Regions from separate parts of the Homo sapiens genome. Here region 2 is linked to region 1. A link means that fine-mapping ties the variant in region 1 to the expression of a gene that starts in the linked region. Tissue or cell type: whole blood. Region 1 holds a variant in brackets; the other region holds the start of a gene. All regions are shown on one strand. Distances are between the middles of the regions.

Region 1 (2,689 bases):
TCAGCTTGCGGGGATTGCCTGATTGTGGTTTTGGTAAGAGCCAGGCAGGGGAAGGGGAGATCAGTGGCCAAGACCACTCCCCGAGCCATTCATTCTCCACACCATTACTCTTTCCAAGGCAAAGAGAGGACTGTGCATTCTGTTCTGTAATCTCCCACTTGGGGAAGCTATTGTCTCATATTCTGTAAGTTCACACACAGGGCATCTTGTTTTTTGTTTTTTGGGTTTTTTTTTAACTTTTATTTCAAGTTCAGGGGTACATGTGCAGGATGTGTATTTGTTACATAGGTAAACATGTGTCACGGGGGTTTGTTGTACACATTGTTTCATCACTCAGGTGTTAAGCCTAGTACGCATTAGTTATTTTTCCTGATCTTCTACCTCGTCCCACCCTTCACACTCTGATAGGCCCCAGTATGTGTTGTTCCCCTCTATGATGTTCTCATCCTTTAGCTCCCACTTTAAGTGACAGAAGTAGTTTAAAGCCTCTTGAGTAATCTATGCTAGAGAAAGACATGAAAGAAAACCTTTGTCAATGTAAAGGGCACTGATTTTGTTATCAGAGAGACCCGAGTTCAAATCCCATCTATTTCTCCTCCTGATATTGTGTGCACGTGTAACTTTAGGCAAACAAATTTGCCTTACCTAGTTACAGTTACTTTTCTAGAAAATTGAGATACTATTTCAGAATGTATAGGGTATTATAAATAATTTTTTGGAATAATACTTAAAGGACCAGGCAAATAGGGGCTTAGCACATTCTACTTTCCAATTCATTTACGACAACTTTGTAAAACAAATATTACTATCCCCATTTTTTTTCAGATGAGGACATTGAGCTCAGACGTTGTCACCACATATACAAATAACTAAAAAGTGACATCCCTAGGAAGTTCTTGAGCCAGAATTTAAATCAGTTTGGGAGGCTGAGGTGGGAGGATCAGCTGACGTCAGGTGTTCAAGACCAGCCTGGCCAACATAGTGAAACCCTGTCTCTACTAAAAATACAAAAATTAGCCAGGCGTGGTGGTGTGTACCTGTAGTCCCAGCTACTTGGGAGGCTGAGGCAGAAGAATCGCTTGAACCCAGGAGGTGGAGGTTGCAGTGAGCCAAGATCGCACCACTGCACTATGTCCTGGGTGATAGAGGGAGACTCCATCTAAAAAAAAAAGTCATCACTAGCAAGATGTCATTCACTTCAGAGTAAGACCTCCAGGATCATCGCATAGGGGTCCCTGTGCATGTGTGCTCATGGGAGATGGTGTTGGTGGCAAGGCTACTGAGGACAAAAGAAAAAGAGAACAAAATCCTGAAAGAGAAACATATATTGGG[A/T]GTAGTCTATATATTGGGAGTAGTTCCAACATTGGCCCAGACACAGGGTTGTAGAGAATCATTTTTATTAATATTTATGTATCAGAATGACTTAAGACTAAATCTCAGTGTGAAAGACATAGGCCCAAGTGCTTGGGAATGGAGAAGCAGGAGAGAGATAAGGGTAATATTTACTAAGCATTTACAATATAACTATGCTAGGTACTGTAGGTACATTATTATATTTAATTGTATAACAATTCTGTAAAGGTAATGAGGCTTCTAAATGCCTCCTCCCATTATTCATATTTCCCTAAACCTTTTAGAAATAGAGGCTCCCTGATTTTTAGCAGACCAACAATTTATTTGGACCTCCCTTGTGGCTTACTGTTGCCAAATGACCAAGTTTTAGCACAAAGACTATGAACATAACTGATATGTGTAACCTTTACATAACTCTCCTAAAAGCAAATTGTTTGCCTTCCACTTTTTCTCCCTCCTCTAGCCTATGAACTAGAGCTTGTCTTGGTGAACCAGCTTTAGATCACGTGACCAAAGACCACATCCTTAGGCAGTGGATCTCAACCAGGGAGTGGTTTTGTTGCTCCAGGAGACACTGAAAGTGTTCAGAGACATTTTTTTTCATTGTCACAACCAGGGAGAGAGTGCTAGTGGCATCTAGTTAGTAGGGACCGGGGATGCTGCTAAACATCCTACAATACACAAGGCAACATCCGTTCCTGCCCCCACTGCCCAGCGAAGAATTATCCGGCCCCAAATGTGAATAATGCTGAAGTTGAGAAACCTTGTCTAAAGGACAGTTGAGCAATAAGATGGAAGGAACAGAGCCTCTTGCACTCCCAGGACTGTTAGAAGAGAGCAAAACAAATATCCATCTTGTTTGACTCACTGTTGTTTTGGTCTCTGCCATGGCAGTTTAGCTAGCTAATGCAGGGCAATATTATCATTATTCTTCCAGCCTCAGAAAAATTAATTTTTCAAGGTCTCAATGTTAATAAATGGCAAAATAAGGATTAACACTCATGTCCGTTTGAATCCAACTCATCTTCTTATATTCTGTAATAACTCTCCCCCTTGATTGCCATGGGAGAAGAAGAGATGACAAGAAGAAAAAAAGAAGGAAAAACTGAGAATACCTTGGGGACCCACTGGAAAAATACTGGTCCAAGGGAGGGAGCTTCCTAGCTTGATTTTAGCACAATTACTAAAAGTATCGTACTGGCATAAAAACAGGCACATCAGCTAACAGATTAGACTAGAAAACCCCGAAATAGACCCATGCAATATGGTCAAGAAGGGCACCAAGAATACACAATAGAAATGAATAGTCTCTTAAATAAATGATTCTGGGGAAACT
Region 2 (2,689 bases), 140 kb after region 1:
GGGGTCACTGTCCTGTGCATTGTAGAGTTATTTACAGCTATCAAATTTTCACACATATCTGACAGATTGGATTTGAACCCCCTAACAACCCTGCAATGAGACAGGCAGAGTTTTCATTCCTGCAATGAGACAGGCAGAGTTTTCATTCCTGTTTAACAGGTGAGCAACTTCTAAATATTGCAAACGTTTGTTTTCTGTTTTAAAATATAAAAACACTATATTTGATGTAAACAAAAATGCAAGTGCCTAAAAAGGCAACCACATGTTTGACATTCACAAGATCATGAACCCTCCAATCCCACCTCTGCTATTCACTTATCTGGGCCATTTCAGGAGTGACTTCACCCTTGAGGCCTGTTGCTTTCACCTATGAAACCTGGGGTTTAACCAGGTGAGCATGAGGTATCCTCCTAACTCTAACACTATAATATCCTGGTCCTGTATTAGGAAACTTCAGTTTCACCCACATTACCTGCAGGCGACTTTTAACCTACTTGCCATGCTGCGACTATTACACAAAGCAACTGATGACAAGCCTTGGATGACAGGCCTCAGGGGCAATGCCTTCCACCTGGATGGCTACCTGATTCCAAAGACTTCAACAACCAATCCCATTCCTCCTACATCTTTACTCCTGCCTGAAGATTCGGACTCAACTTATTAAGAGCAACTTGGAAGGAAGGGGCAACAACCAAAAGAAACGAGTCACTAAAACAGTAGGGCCCTTCTCGGCAACCCCTGACACCACCCTGCACATCCAGTCCTTGAAAAGTTCTGTTTCTTTTCCTCCTATATCCAAGCCCTAAGATACCGCCCCTCCCCCACCCCAGCCCCCATATGCCACTGACACGCATTGGAGAGTGAGGATCAACGTCCCTTGCAGACGTGTGCACGGGCCTAGGAACCAGCTGACCCACGTTTCAACTGTCATTAACTTCTAACTACATGCCCCGTCGGGCCTGACCTGAGGCTGAACTCCTGTGACCTTCCAACTCCCCTGGATCTGCACGGCAGTCACTTGGAGGCACCGCCCCTGCGCTAGCTCCAGAGCTTGAGACAGGGTCCGGGCGGAGCTCCTTCCTGAGCCGGAGAAGACGCGCCCCTGTCCCTTCCGCGACTGCCGCCCCGCACTCCCTGCGGGGAGGTCGACCCCGGCGCATTCTAGGCCCCGCGGTCCTCCAGCGGGTTGGCCGCTACCTTGTCCAGCAGCCGGTAGATGCTGATGCCCGAGGTCTCCACTAGGAGCTGCCAGTCGGCCCCGGCCAGAGCGGGCTGCTGGAGCTCGGCGCAGGCCTCCCAGAACTGCTCCTCCGAGAAGCTTCCGGCGGCCAGCTCCATCCTTCCGCAGTCCGGGCTCCTCCGCCTGGAGGGCAGGCCGCGGACACCCTTAGTGTGGGCCTGGGGGCGGGGTGACCGGGCTGCCCCGGCTGCCCCGGCTGCCCCAGCGTCATTGGCAGGAAACTGAGGAGAAGGCGGGGCCTAGACTGGAGGAGCGGCCTGAGGGTGGGGCCCTGGAGGGGCGGGCCTAGAAAAGCGGGCGGGGCTGAGCAAGGAGTGAGGAGGATAGACAAGAAGTAAAAGGAGAAAAATTGGACTTGATGTGGGGAAGGAAGGAAGAGCTGGAGAAGTAAGGAGGCTTCCAGAGGGAAGGGAAAAAGGAAGGGAGACAGTGATGTCACCTCAAAAACAGCTCCTCAGTAGCCTATCCCATACTCCCTGCTACTCCCATAACCTACAGACCTGTTTGAGTGTCTCTCATTTACCTTTCTGAATAAAGTAGAGAAAGTCTCTTTGGTAGACATGAGAGGAGAGGTGGGCAGAGTAGAAATGCTGGAAAAATCCTAAGGGGTCAAATGCCAGAAGTGTATTTCAATATAATTTCTCTTCTTTCTGCTATACATTGTAAAACATTATTCTGAGACGAGGTCCATTGGATTCCCCAGAAGACTCTAGGGGTTCATAACACCAAAACAGTTTAGAAACCTAATCCATAATGGATCTACAAGGTTGTTGCCACCCTTGAGGGTAGAAACTGATCTGAAAGGTGTCGTACTATCCACCTAGGATTTCTGCAACTTGCATAATTTAGCTCACTGTGCAACTCAAACATCTTCTTGTTCCTTTGAAGTCCCTTGAGTAATACTGTATTTCCCACCAGCAGACTGTACTACCTGACTTTGAATAAAGTAGGTCGTTTGAACATCAAAACGATGTAACAGCCACGTGAGTGCCAATAAACTCTGGAAACTCATGTTTCCTAATCTGTAAAATGGGTCAAGAATTGTGCTACCAGTTACAGCTGAGGAGGTGGTTGGACAAGGAATAATTTTCCACAGTGCCCGTCCAAGTAAATGTTCAATAACAATTTCCACTTGTTTTGCATTACTATATTGAAATGCTTTTCTTTCCTTACTTGAAAGAAAGTTGATGGCAAAGTCTTAATTTATGTGATTTTCCAATCAGGCAAATGATCACATTTGGCAGCTTGCTTAGTTAGACACAGCAGAGATAAATAATTGCTTTCCTCAAGTCAGTCCTGGTTCTGTTTGGCTTTATAGGTGTGGAAAGAGGGATGTGAAATTTTCCTAGACTAAATGCACAAAAGTTTAGGCTAGACATACTTTCCCACTGTTTTATAACTCCTTGTAAATTTTCTATGTATTGTAAATCCATATTTTATTTAAATGGA

The links. PIP is the estimated chance that this variant, and not a neighbour inherited with it, causes the effect.
Region 2: it holds the start of PCTP, and the variant in region 1 is fine-mapped to the expression of PCTP in whole blood (TOPMed, PIP above 0.99).

Annotation. Positions count from the first base shown.
Region 1 is chr17:55,894,726-55,897,414 of GRCh38, reverse strand. No RefSeq gene overlaps it. Among named protein-coding and RNA genes, the nearest start is that of PCTP, 150 kb to the right of the region's middle. The variant A/T (reference allele first, on the strand shown) is at 1,333.
Region 2 is chr17:55,749,753-55,752,441 of GRCh38, reverse strand. It overlaps PCTP (phosphatidylcholine transfer protein), which reads right to left and starts at 1,391. Exons shown (of 6, transcript NM_021213.4): 1 at 1,198-1,391. The coding sequence starts at 1,338. RefSeq lists a silencer at 1,254-1,593.